4 linked regions of the Homo sapiens genome follow. The protein of the gene in region 3 interacts with the protein of the main gene of each other region in a biochemical or structural test. Each region holds a gene or a part of one and is shown on either strand. Other genes may lie near its edges.

Region 1 (3,528 bases), on a different chromosome or scaffold from region 3:
CCCGAAGTGCTGGGATTACAGGCATGAGCCGCTGCACCCGGCTGTAAGAATCAGGGTCTTGGGCGTGGTGGCTCACGCTTGTAATCCCAGCACTTTGGGAGGCTGAGGCGGGTGGATCACCTGAGGTCAGAAGTTTGAGACCAGCCTGACCAACGTGGTGAAACCTCGTCTCTACTCAAAATACAAAAAAATTAGCTGGGCATGGTGGCGGGCACCCATAATCCTACTACTCAGGAGGCTGAGGCATGAGAATTGCGTGAACCCAGGAGGTGGGGGTTGCAGTGAGCCGAGATCGTGCCACTGCACTCCAGACCGGGTGACAGAGTTAGACTTTGTCTTAAAAAAAAAAAAAAAAAAAAAATCAGGGAGTTAGGCTGGGCGCAGTGGCTCACGCCTGTAATCCCAGCAGTTTGGGAGACTGAGGCAAGCGGATCACCTGAGGTCAGGAGTTCAACACCAGCCTGGCCAACATGGTGAAACCCCGTCTCTACTAAAAATACAAAAATTAGCTGGGCGTGGTGGTACACACCTGTAGTCCCAGCTACTCCGGAAGCTGAGGCAGGAGAATCACTTAAACCCAGGAGATGGAGGTTGCAGTGAGCCGAGATGGCACCACTGCACTCCAGCGTGGGCAGCAGAGCGAGACTCTGTCCCAAAAAATAAAATAAAGACTAGAAGTAGCTAATAAAGGGATTTAGGTTATTGAAATTTATGTACTCTAAAGGATAAGACTTGGAAATATAGCTGCTGATAAATTCTAAATCTTTCTTTTTTATTGGTGTCCACGCTTAGATCCCTGAATATTGCCGAGCCTTAGAAGAGAATGAAATATCTGAGCACTGTTTTGATTTGATTTTTGCTTTTGATGAAATTGTCGCACTGGGATACCGGGAGAATGTTAACTTGGCACAGATCAGAACCTTCACAGAAATGGATTCTCATGAGGAGAAGGTGTTCAGAGCCGTCAGAGAGGTAAATAGGATCTTCTCTGGGACTACCTGTTTGTATGTCTTTCTCTTAGGCTTCACTAATCTCATTTTCCTATTTTTACTTACTAATGTAGACTGTATTCAAAACTATGTCCAGGCTAGGCACAGTGGCTCATGTCTGTAATCTCAGCACTTTGGGAGGCGGAAGTGGGAGTATCACTTGAGTCCAGGAGTTCAAGACCAGACTGGACAGCGTAGTGAGACCCTGTCTCTATAAAAAGTAAAAAAAAAATTAGCCAGGCATGGTAGCACGTGCATGTGGGTCCCAGCTACTTGGGAGGCTGAGATGGGAGGATCACTTGAGCCCAGGAAGTTGAGGCTGCAGTGAGCTGTGATTGTGCCACTTGCACTCCAGCCTGGGTCACAGAGTGAGACCCTGTCTCAACAAAAACCCAAAAAAAAAAGCTACATTAATGTATGTCTTTTTCTGTAGACTCAAGAACGTGAAGCTAAGGCTGAGATGCGTCGTAAAGCAAAGGAATTACAACAGGCCCGAAGAGATGCAGAGAGACAGGGCAAAAAAGCACCAGGATTTGGCGGATTTGGCAGCTCTGCAGTATCTGGAGGCAGCACAGCTGCCATGATCACAGAGACCATCATTGAAACTGATAAACCAAAAGTGGCACCTGCACCAGCCAGGTATAATCCAGTGTACTTTAGAATACCAGGTGAAGGGTGTATATGTGTCTATCTTTGAAGTCATAATCTGATTTCTTGGAAAGCTGTAAATAAAGAAGGACTTGATGAAGTAAGATATGATGTTACATTTGGCCACATACAATATGAGGATAAAGAAGAAATCTGAATGTGGTGTTTTTCCTTTTGTATAAAAGAGAGTTATAAATTATGTCATGACCTCAGTTTCCTATGAGAGTTGCCTTATTGTGGGGAGGAAAGGGCTATTTAATGCTTTATGGAATGTAGATTTTTAATCTTGATGTTCATTGATTGATTTTAGGGGAAATCTGTGAATTACCCAAAATTATATACAAAATTTTGTGCACAGGTGTATTTCTCTGGACGGGAGATACAAAATTTTCATCAGATCATGTGTGCTTGTAAAAATAAACCTTTGGGTAATGAATTTCAAATTCTTCCACTTAGGCCTTCAGGCCCCAGCAAGGCTTTAAAACTTGGAGCCAAAGGAAAGGAAGTAGATAACTTTGTGGACAAATTAAAATCTGAAGGTGAAACCATCATGTCCTCTAGTATGGGCAAGCGTACTTCTGAAGCAACCAAAATGCATGCTCCACCCATTAATATGGAAAGGTAAGTAGGAACTTTGAGTAAGAATTCAAGCTTTGAATACAGTCCACATAATTTTTTAAAAATCTTATTTCAGTGTGCTATAAATTCTTTCTCTGTCTTTTAATCGTTCCTGATTTAAAAGATTTATTCAGAGCAGATTCTACATATTAACATAAGATCGTTTTTGGTTTTGTTTTGTTTTATTTACTTATTTTTTTTTGAGATGGAGTCTCACTCTGTCACCCAGGCTGGAGTGCAGTGGTGTGATCTCGGCTCGCTGCAAGCTCTCCCTCCCAGGTTCACGCCATTCTCCTGCCTCAGCCTCCCGAGTAGCTGGGACCACAGGCGCCCACCCCTACGCCCGGCTAATTTTTTTGTATTTTTAGTAGAGATGGGGTTTCGCCGTGTTAGCCAGAATGGTCTCGATCTCCTGACCTTGTGATCCGCCTGACTCAGCCTCCCGAAGTGCTGGGATTACAGGCGTGAGCCACCACGCCCGGCTGTTGTTTTGTTTTATTTTTTTGAGACAGGGTCTTACTATGTTGTCTAGGCTGGCCTCCAACTCCTGAGCTCAGTTAATCTTCCTGCCTCAGCCTCCCAAGTAACTGGGATACAGGCATGCGTTGCTGCACCTGACCTTTTCCTTTTTCCTTAAACCATGATTGGGGGCCCTCAGCCACCTATTTTCTATGAAGTTTAGAACTTTCCTTTTACAGCTAAATTAAAGTTACTTGTAGTCACACCTGGTATATAGCGTATCTCTTAGAATGCACTTGAATTAGGGGACTAGAGCTATGGTGACCCCACACTGTATTTTGGCATGACTTTTTCTAATTAAAGTCTAAGTAGAACCAATCTTTAATCCAAAACTTGTAGATATCTTTAATAGCAAATTAATATATTTTGCATTTTTATTTTATTTATTTATTTTTTTGAGATGGGGTTTCACTCTGTCACCCAGGCTGGAGTACAGTGGTGCAATCTCAGCTTGTTGCAACCTCTGCCTCCCAGGTTCAAGTGATTCTCCCACCTCAGCCTCCCAAGTAGCTGGGACTACAGGCATGCACCACCACGCTGGGCTAATTTCTGTATTTTGGTAGAGATGGGGTTTTGCCTTGTTGCCCAGGCTGGTCTCGAACTCCTGGACTCAAGCAATCTGCCTGCCTCGGCCTCACAAAGTACTGGGATTACAGGCGTCAGCCACCATGCCCAGCCATCTTTTGCAGTTTAAATATTTGAAGCCAGTATGGAATATTTTGATTCATCTCTTATCTCAGGGCTGTGGTACTGG
Region 2 (3,528 bases), on a different chromosome or scaffold from region 3:
ATTCATATTCCCTCAGTATCAGTGGGGAATTGGTTCCAGGACCTCCATTGGATACTAAAGTCCATAGATGCTCAAGTCCCTCATACAAATGGTGTAGTATTTGCATATAACCTACACATATCCTCCCATATATAAGTTGTCTCTGTGATTATAATACTTAGACTATAATCTCTAGATTACAATACCTGGTGCAATGTTAGTGCTGTGTAAATAGTTGTTGTGCTGTATTGTTTAGGGAATAATGACAAAAAACCATCTGTACGTGTTCAGTACAAACATAGTTTTTTTTTTCCTTGAATATTTTCAATCTGAGCCTGGTTGAATCCACAGATTCAGAACTCATGGTTATGGAGGGCTGACTATATATGTCTATACACATACAGACGGACACATAAAACATACATATATACCATATACCTCAGGTGGTTTACATATGGTGCTAAGATAACCATGGTTTCCAATTTGAATTCTAAGAGAATATATTATCTTTACTTTGTTTTGTGACTGAAGACCTCACTCAGAGATTTAATAAAGTTTTCTTGTTTACAAATGAAGACTAAGCAACAAGCACATAGATTTTTTTTATTTTTTGAGATGGAGTCTCGCTCTGTTACCAGGCTGGAGTGCAGTGGCGCAATCTCGGCTCACTACAACCTCCACCTCCCTGGTTCAAGCAATTCTCCTACTTTAGCCTCCTGAGTAGCTGGGATTACAGGCATGCACCACCACGCCTGGCTAATTTTTATATTTTTAGTAGAGACGGGGTTTCACCATATTGGCCAGGTGGGTCTCAAACTCCTGACCTTAGGTGATCCGCCCACCTCAGCTTCCCAAAGTCCTGGGATTACAGGTGTGAGCTACTGTGCCTGATCATCAAACACATAGTTTTAAATAAAATATATCTGTTCACAAACAACATAATCCCTCTGTGTCAGCATATGAGAAACATTTAAAGCATAGTCAATTGGGTTTAACTTTTCATAGCACACATTGTGTCTAAGTTGGCCAAATCCATTGTATAAACAAAAGTTTTGAATAGTCAAAGTTGATTGAGAGTAACATGTATTTTTATGTTGGTCATTACCTCTTCAATGAGGCAACTCATGTTGAAACATTTAATTATCTTGATAAGGAAATTACCAAGCACAGCATAAACACAATTAACTATATAAACAGGTTTGGGAACATAAATTTTATCTCTTTGCCTAGAACTTGGTAGAGCTTTATAGAAAGATACTTTTGAATTTCTATGAGAGTTGACATATCCATGTGTTTTCTGAGTTTCAAGTAAAAAAGTAGGATGTAAGGTTTTCCTGTATAACTAAAAAGCACACAGACTTCTGGGTATTCAGTAAATAGTTGTGAAAGAAAGATAAATCTCATGCTGATGAGCAGGCTGGATACACTGATTTAAGTAAGTATAAACTTATTGTACTTTGTCTTTTATCCTAAACTGTCAGTATTTTTCACCAAAATTTATTCTTATACCTATGGCAAATAGATTGAAGACTAGTTATATTTTATGTGGAATCTGAAGCTCTGAAAAGTGATTGAGTGTAACGTATTATATAAGATTGCTTTTAGTGAAGACATTAAATATTGAAATGGTAATATTTGAGGTAATCTATGATTTGAGATGTTTTGAAATACGTTATCTAACACTTTTTCACTGCTCAGAAAATGTAGTTCCCAGATCAGCATTTGCATCACTTGTTAGAAATGCCAAATCTCAGGCCAGGCGCAGTGGCTCAAGCCTGTAATCCCAGCACTTTGGGAGGCCGAGGCAGGTGGATCACGAGGTCAGGAGTTCAAGACCAGCCTGGCCAACATGGTGAAACCCCGTCTCTACTAAAGATAACAAAAAATTAGTTGGGCGTGGTGGTGCACACCTGTAATCACAGCTACTTGGGAGGCTGAGGCAGGAGAATCACTTGAACCCAGGAGGTGGAGGTTGCAGTGAGCCAAGATTGCGCCATTGCACTCCAACCTGAGCAACAGGGTGAGACTCCGTCTCAAAAAAAAAAAAAAAAAAAAAAAAAAGAAAAGAAATGCAAAATCTCAGGCTTTACCCCAGAGCCACTGAATCAGAATCTGCATTTTGGCAAGATCCCAGGATGAATTGTCATGCTCATTAAACTGTTTGAAGCTCTGATCCAAAGCATGTTTTTAGGGGCTTGAACCAATATTGAGCTACATAGCAGCCCCTTAAGCCTAGTTTTTTAATATGATGAATCTGGTTCCTGCCCTTTTGGTTGGTCCCCTTCTTGCCATTTTGCTGAGATTCTGAATAGATAGTTCCTTATATTTTAATATTTATTATGCTCCCATGACATGTTAGGCATTGTGCTGGGCATTATAGATATGATCTCTGCTCTTAGGCAGTGTAATAATAATGTCCTATTGTGAGTGCTGTAATTTTCTCCCTCCTTGTAAACTACAATACTTCAGGAAAATTTCAGATACTTTCTACTAAAAGTTTAGAGATCACTATGCCAGAACTTTTAAGCATGGTATGCGATACTGAATTATTTTAAATAAGGGGGGATAAATGGCTATGTGGGTTTATGCATTGAAAGCCAGAAAAATTGCAGAGGCAGAATGTTTACAAAGAGATTCTTTTTTCTTGAGTTCTAAAGGATTTTTGCAGAAATAGAAAATCCTGTGTGTGTATATGTACATATATATGAATATACACTTTTTAAAATTTAAAAATTGTTTTAAATTTTACTTAGGGTGAACACTTTGGAACAACGGAAGCTACAGAAGCCTTCTTTGCAATGACGCGATTGTTTCAATCTAATGATGTAAGTCTTTTTAAATTTTTTTTACGATGAAAAACCTCCTTTTATTTATTTTCCCCAGGGAACTAAGAGTGTTCTAAATTAGGGAGCATTGCTTGAAATGTTTTAAATTATTTAACTGCTTATAAAACTTATAAATATTCATTATAAGACGTGAAAATGGAAGAATTAAAGTATGCAGTGTAAAACTTTTCCCTGCAGATCTACCGTGAAGTCATAAAGACTGTTAATACCTAGCTTCTGGCATGACACTGTGAAGGTGGACTGATAAAGAAGTCAGTGCACATAGCTACCACATTTGTCAGTTCTTAGTCAAGTTTCTGGTGGGCCTGGGATTGCTGTTAGTCAGCAGTGCTGGCAGTTGAGAAGAAGAGCTGGATGTGGAGTGGGGAAGGGGAATAAGGAATAGAATAAGGAAAAAGAAAAATGAGTACAAACTAAACCTGCCTCTCATTACCTTAGGCCACCCTGACCTTCAGAACATACAGCTGCTGCTTTTTGTCTGTCTTCTAAGTGTTGTGTACATTTTTCTTTTGCCTAGCTCTAAGGCAGAACCATACAGGGAAGGTAATTCTGGGATATGTATTTTCCAGCTTTCCATTAACATAAATTGGCCAAATCCTGCAGTTTTTTGGTATGTATTGCATATCATCACATGTCACATTTTGTGTCAACCCCCAGAACCTCTTGAGATTTGAGTCTTGTTATGGATCTAAATAATGAGAGG
Region 3 (3,528 bases):
TAGTCCCAGCTACTTGGGAGGCTGAGGCAGGAGAATGGTGTGAACCCCGGGGAGCAGAGCCTGCAGTGAGCCAAGATTGCACCACCGCACTGCAGCCTGGGTGAAAGCGAGACTCCATCTCAACAAAAAAAGAAAAAGTGGAACTAAGTGAACGGACACCATGAAAAAGACTGAAAGCCGCTATGGGCTGCATCTGCTCACAAATGTGTTCTGTGGCTTGCATGGTATATTACATTTTCAAAAATGACACCTAGCTTGTGGTCTCCAAATACCAATCCCCACAAAAAGGAACTAGAATTCCTTAGAGAAACAGTTGTTCTGAGGTCAGAGGATAGACATATACAAGATAAGCCTAGAACACTTTGTTGTGCCAGAAAACAAGGATGCTATCAAAACCTAACAGGATTATGTTGAAAAAATACAGGAGCCAATATGAAGGAACCAAAGGGACAAATTGGGCATAAAGAATGGAAACAACTGCCTAAAACACAATGATTCTAAAAGTTGAAGCCAACAATTAAAAAGAGTTCAGTAAAATACTTTAAAAAAAAACCCAAAAACTCTTGGACAACACTGAAAATGACAAGGGCAACAATTCCTTACTCTGACAATTATCAATTAGAAGAAATAAATTCTGCATTTATCCTACCAATGTGAATGATAAATTTTAGGATAATCAGATGATATTAATTCCTTAAGAATAATTTCAGCTAATAAATATGGAAGGAGTAACGGAATTAGAAAGTCATCATTTCACAACCTTAATGACATAATAAATGCACACAGTAGTCATCAGTGGATTCCTAAGTGAAAGGTTAATGGGAAACTTTACAATGAAGGCTTTGGGCTATTACCACCCGGGTAGAGAAAAAAATGCCTCCCACACACAAAGATGTCCACATCCTAATCCCTAGAACCCACGAATGTGTTATCTTACATGGCAAAAGGGATTGTGCAGATGTGATTAAATCAGATTAAGGGTCTTGAGGTGGAGAAGATTATCACAAGGGTCCTTATAAGGGAACGAGGGAGGCAGGTGAGTAAGAGAATGAGATGAGATGATGATAGCCGGGGAAGGAGGGAGGAAGAGAGGAAGAAGGGGTGGTGAGGAACAAAGCAGAGGATGGAAAAGGGAAGGAAAGGGAGAGAGTTAAAGATACTATGCTACTGGCTTTAATTTTTTTTTTTTTTTTGAGACAAAGTCTCGCTCTGTCACCCAGGCTGGAGTGCCGTGGCACGATCTCGGCTCACTACAATCTCCGCCTCCCAGGTTCAAGCGATTCCCCTGCCTCAGTCTCCTGAGTAGCTGGGACTACAGGTGTGCACCACCATGCCCAGCTAATTTTTGTATGTTTGGTGAAGACGGGGTTTCACCATGTTGGCCAGGCTGGTCTCAAACTCCTAACCTTCAGTGATTTGCCCGCCTTGGCCTCCCAAAGCGTTGGGATTACAGACGAGAGCCACCGCGCCCAGCCTGGCTTTAAAGATGGAGGAAGGAGATATGAGCCAAAGAATACAAGTGGCTTCTAGAAGCTAGAAAGGGCAAGAAAACTGATCCCCACCCCACTCCCAAAAAGTCTCCAGAAGAAACATGGCTCTGCCAAAACCCTGATTTTAGGACTTCTGACCTTCAGAACGATTAAGACAAATCCCTGATGTTTTAGGCCATAAATCTGTGGTAATTTGTTACAGCAGCAATAGGACACTAAGACACACCTTAATCCACTTATCAATCTTAGCAGCAGCAATAAGGGGCACAAAAAGTACTGTGTGTTCCTGCAGTGACACCCTCGACAGAAAGATTAAACCTGAATCTGGTTACATCTTTTTTTTTTTTTTTACACTTTAAGTTCTGGAGGGGTACATGTGCAGAACGTGCAGGTTTGTTACATAGGTATACGTGTGCCATGGTGGTTTGCTGAACCTCTGGTTACATCTTTACAGCTGATTCCTTTTACAAAAAATATAGTGGAAGAACTGGTTAAAAGACACCTCTAGGAAGCAAAAGACAACTCCGAAATGCTGTACATTCTTTTAAGAGCAATTGACTCCAACAATTCAATTGCAAGGATAAAAAAGGAGGTGAGAGGAAGAGGAGACTGCTCTAGATTAGACACTTGAGAGAGACAACAAATTAACTTTCAAAAGATATTTTTGAGACAAGTGGGATCATACTATATGGACTGGGTATCAAGGAATCATTGTTCTTTTTTTTTTTTTGGAGACAGAGTCTCACTCTGTAGCCCAGGTAGGAGTGCAGTGGCACAATCATACTTCACTGCAACTTCCGCCTCCCAGGTTCAAGAGATTCTCCTGCCTCAGCCTAGAGCAGCTGGGATTACAGATGTGTGCCACCACGCCCAGCTAATTTTTTTTTAAATTTTTAGTAGAGACGGGGTTTCACCGTGTTGGTCAGGCTGGTCTCGAACTCCTGACCTCGTGATTCGCCCACCTCGGCCTCCCAAAGTGCTGGGATTACAGGCATGAGCCACCGCGCCTGGCCATCATTGTTCATTTTGTGAGGCGTGATTAGCCACGTAACATTGTGGTTTATATTTTTAAAGAGATGCATGCTGAAGTAGGCAGGAATGAAATACATGACATCTGGGATTTACTTTAATACAATTTAGCATGAAATGATATGGCAGAAGCAGTTAAGATGACACGTGTGGAAAGATCCTGATAATTGGTGAATATGAGTAATGGGTAGAAAGGTGAACTCACTATACTATTCCCTATAACACTGAAAACAAATCAATGCCCGAACCAATCTGAATTGGCTGGTGAAATTTTTTTTTTTTAATTTTTAGGGGGCCAAACCATTTTATTGAGGAAAATGGAGTGGCAAAGCAGTGGTGAGGACAATGAGATCCATGGCCCTCGGGTGGGCCGGGAGCTCCCAAGCTCTGCAGTGCTGAAACCTGGCTGATGAAATTTAAAAGTCTGGAGCTTTCACATCAAAATCTGGTGTTCCTATTTCATTTGAAAAATCAGATGTGGGCTAGGTGCAATGGCTCATGCCTGTAATCCGAGCACTTTGGGAGGCCGAGATGGGCGGATCACTTGAGCCCAGGAGTTCGAGACCAGCCTGGGTAACATGGCGAAACTCCATTTCTACAAACAAATATGAAAACTAGCCGGATATGGTGGCATGTGCCTGTAATCCCAGCTACTCAGGAGCCTGAAGTAGGAGGATCACCTGGGCCCTGAGGAGGTCAAGGCTGCAGTGAGCTGTGATGGTGCCACTGGAGGGAGGGAGGGAGAGAGGGAGGAAGAAAGGAAGGAAGGGAAGGAAGAGGGGAGGGGAGGGGAAGGGAAAAATCAGATGTGGCAAAAAGGCCCACATGCTTGCATGGCAAGTCTCATCAAGAACTAAGTATTGGTCACCCCTAATTAACAGTTTCTACTACGTCCAATTATTCTCCCATTTATCATCACTGCTTTTTTTTTTAAAATACCTGGTCCAATTTATTCAATGATATTACCTATTTGGCATTTGGGTTTAGGACCCTTGTGGTTCCATTAAGC
Region 4 (3,528 bases), on a different chromosome or scaffold from region 3:
AAAGCATTAGGGGAACACAGAAAAGGGCAGTGTGGATAGTGACACTAAGTGTGGCAGTGTGAATAGTATTAGGAAAGGATTCACAGAGAATTATTTAAATAAAGATTCCAAGAATTGTGAGAATTTAGGCAAATAAGGGATGCATTCAGGTGTCTTGTCTTACAGATATAATCTTCATCCTTACGTATCTCCAATTTCCAGGTTTTTTTCTTGCCTACAGCTTAATTTTTTCTCCTCCTCTCCCTGTCCCCCAGGCCATGATGGTGGTATGATTGTGTTTAAGCTGGAACGGGAACGGCCAGCCTATGCTGTTCATGGCAATATGCTACACTATGTCAAGGACCGATTCTTACGACAGCTGGATTTCAACAGCTCCAAAGATGTAGCTGTGATGCAGTTGCGGAGGTAAATCGGACTTGTTTCTTTCCTCCAAACCCTCTCATCTGTCACCCTGATACAACTCCCACAAACAAGACTCTTCTTTTCTTTCTTTCATTTATTTATTTTATTTATTTAATTTTTTTTTGAGACGGAGTCTCGCTTTGTCGCCCAGGCTGGAGTGCAGTGGCGCGATCTCGGCTCACTGCAAGCTCCGCCTCCCGGGTTCACACCATTCTCCTGCCTCAGCCTCCCAAGTACTGGGACTACAGGCGCCCGCCACCACGCCTGGCTAATTTTTTGTATTTTTTAGTAGAGACGGTTTCACCATGTTAGCCAGGATGGTCTCAATCTCCTGACCTCATGATCTGCCTGGCTTGGCCTCCCAAAGTGCTGGGATTACAGGCGTGAGCCACCGCGCCCAGCCTATTTATTTATTTTTAAATTTTTTTTTTTTGAGATGGAGTCTCACTCTGTCACCCAGGCTGGAGCGCAGTGATGCAACCTCAGCTCACTGCAACCTCCACCTCCTGGGTTCAAGCAATTCTCCTGCCTCAGTCTCCCAAGTAGCTGGGATTACAGGTGTGCACCACCACACCTGGCTAATTTTGTATTTTGAGTAGAGACGGGGTTTCGCTGTGTTGGTCAGGCTGGCCTCGAACTCCTGACCTTGTGATCCGCCCACCTCGGCCTCCCAAAGTTCTGGGATTGCAGGCGTGAGCCACCGCACCCAACCAAGACTCTTCTTTTAAATGACATTTTGGATCTCGTATTCTGTCACAGATGGAATCCCCATTAGATGAGCCCGCTCAGTTTAAACCCAATGAGTGAGGGAGGCAAGGAAGTGGTCATGAGTAGAATGATAGTTCCCTTCTTGAGAATGCTAGTGACCTTGTGGATGGAAAATCATTCTGCCACAATTTGCTGGGTCTCTTGCAAGCCAGAGGAAGTTTCTTGATAGAGAATGGCCCAAACTGGTAACAGAACTTTTCGCCTTTGTTTGGCATTTCTTTTCTTTAACTCTCCCTTGCCTTCCAGCAAAAAGTGCACAACTCTGAACCAGAATATATGTCCCTGGAAACTCTTAATTCTGAAGATACAATAACCTCTGGGATGCCTGGCAAAAGGACCTGTCCTTTTGAAAAGCCAGCTGCATCAGCATGCTGAAACATTCATGGTGGCAAAATTTGGAATGAGGTTTTGATAACCACCCTTTAGCATCATTACAATAAAAAAATGGGTTTATGTGAATACTCCAAGGGACAGGAGAAACCAGCCAGAGACAAATCACATTATGTTACTCTGTGGTGTCCACTGCAATTACGTGTAGGAATTTGTATCCAAGCAGAACCAGTCCCACTCACTACAGTGAGTGTTAACCCTACCTACCTTCTGTTGAATAATTTGACTTCTACTATGGCTTACTTTTTAAAACTGTTTGTTCAAAGCTGAGCTAGGGAAGTTGCCAAGCCTTAAAGGAAGAGAATACAATATTTATTCATTTTATTCCTGATTATAAAAGTGATGAGTATATAGTGTAAAGATTGGATAAGTAGGAGGTGTGGGGGTGATTCCTTTCTTCCTTCTATTCTTATGCCTCTTCCCTGTTTTCTCCTTTTTCTATATATATCTCTAGTGGTTCCAAGTTTCCAGTATTCAATATGTCATACAATCCAGCAGAAAATGCAGTCCTGCTTTGTACAGTAAGTAACCTGTGGAGCCCTCCTAGGTTCTCCTCATTTTCCATAGGTCTCTTTCTTATGCCCTTAGGGAATCTTTAATGGCTTCTTAGAAACTATTTAATGGTCATTTTGTGAGAGCTGACACAGTGATCACTCAGAGACTCAAATCAGGTAGGTTTCAGTTGTCGTAAACATATTGAGCATTTGTGAACTGCCTATCTTTCCTAAAGCTGAACTTAATGGAGCATCAGAATGAATGACCCAGATCACTAGAAATAATTTGAGAGAATGTTTAGACTATATATATATATTTCCTATGGAAAGAAAATGTTTACCTTGATCCCTTCCTTTGGGTGAAAATAGAAGAACTATTATTTTGAGAGGAAGTTCATATCAGTGGGGTTGGCTTCAGAGTCATCAATGACTCCTCTCTGTTTCTTGCAACAGAATTTGCAAAAAAAAAAAAAAAAGAAATGACATTCTAATTTTAGTGCCCTCGTGGCCAAGTTAAAAGGAATGAAGTTAAATGTCTTTCCTCATATAACTATATTGTCTAATCTGTTCTTCTTTAATATCTAGTAGTCCCATACTCTGAGTTTTCTTGAGTGTTTTTTCTTTTCTTCTTTTTCCAATAAACATTTGCATTCCTATAGTGTCTTTTCTTTGATGTCTTTTTTTTTTCCTTTCCAGAGGTTGAGTACTCAGTTGATGAGTCCTCAGGGTGGGGTACCAGAATATCAGGGTCCTAGTCTGTTAATTTGTGGAGTAGAGAGCATTTCTTACTTTCATTCAGATAATATCTGCATCTTTGGAGGATAAAGAAAATAAAGTGACATCAGTGCTGATGTGTTTGGCAAAGAGCCCTATAACTCATAGATGTAGAAACAGTCAAATGCCCTCTGGGTGAAGGGTAAGAAAAGTATGGTTTCAGATTGGTGTCTGTGCAATGGAACTGTTTTCTCTGTCAGAGTAAATTGGAAAACTGGTATCTTGGGTGCTTCTCACTAACATTTTAATTTCCCCTTTTCTTCTACAGAGAGCTAGCAATCTAGAGAATAGTACCTATGACCTGTACACCATCCCTAAAGATGCTGACTCCCAGAATCCTGATGGTAAGTGTTCTTTTTGTCTACCCCACTCTGCTTCCAGCTCTCCTCACCCGCATCATAACTCCTCTTCAAGTTTTTCACATTCCATCCCCAAGCCATGGCCACATCACTCATGTCTGTTGGCAGGTGCTGCTGACAATTGCATCAGAGGCGACCATGGTGTGAAATATTCATGTTCCTCCTCCATTTTATTACCCCAGCTAGATATATATATTTTATAATTTGGTTATTAGAAACTCTCCATTCTCTCTTTCAGCACAGCATGTTATCCTAGTTTATTGTCAGTTGATATGACTTTCACCCTGGTAGTTTCATTTATTTAAAAATGTGGTTCCAATCTTATAATGCCTCATCCTGGG

Evidence for each region. The genes of interacting proteins can lie anywhere in the genome.
Region 1: the proteins of TMED10 (region 3) and ARCN1 form a complex in vitro, tested with the Homo sapiens proteins (one study listed by BioGRID).
Region 2: the proteins of TMED10 (region 3) and COPG2 form a complex in vitro, tested with the Homo sapiens proteins (one study listed by BioGRID).
Region 4: the proteins of TMED10 (region 3) and COPA form a complex in vitro, tested with the Homo sapiens proteins (one study listed by BioGRID).

What each region holds. Positions count from the first base shown.
Region 1 is NC_000011.10:118,582,387-118,585,914, forward strand, and holds part of ARCN1 (coatomer subunit delta), read left to right. Parts: intron 1-792; coding exon 793-972; intron 973-1,422; coding exon 1,423-1,628; intron 1,629-2,093; coding exon 2,094-2,258; intron 2,259-3,528. UniProt on the Homo sapiens protein: Component of the coatomer, a cytosolic protein complex that binds to dilysine motifs and reversibly associates with Golgi non-clathrin-coated vesicles, which further mediate biosynthetic protein transport from the ER, via the Golgi up to the trans Golgi network.
Region 2 is NC_000007.14:130,662,243-130,665,770, reverse strand, and holds part of COPG2 (coatomer subunit gamma-2), read left to right. Parts: intron 1-2,732; coding exon 2,733-2,804; intron 2,805-3,528. UniProt on the Homo sapiens protein: The coatomer is a cytosolic protein complex that binds to dilysine motifs and reversibly associates with Golgi non-clathrin-coated vesicles, which further mediate biosynthetic protein transport from the ER, via the Golgi up to the trans Golgi network.
Region 3 is NC_000014.9:75,170,105-75,173,632, forward strand, and holds part of TMED10 (transmembrane emp24 domain-containing protein 10 precursor), read right to left. Parts: intron 1-3,528. UniProt on the Homo sapiens protein: Cargo receptor involved in protein vesicular trafficking and quality control in the endoplasmic reticulum (ER) and Golgi.
Region 4 is NC_000001.11:160,308,745-160,312,272, reverse strand, and holds part of COPA (coatomer subunit alpha), read left to right. Parts: intron 1-254; coding exon 255-405; intron 406-2,014; coding exon 2,015-2,081; intron 2,082-3,096; coding exon 3,097-3,172; intron 3,173-3,528. UniProt on the Homo sapiens protein: The coatomer is a cytosolic protein complex that binds to dilysine motifs and reversibly associates with Golgi non-clathrin-coated vesicles, which further mediate biosynthetic protein transport from the ER, via the Golgi up to the trans Golgi network.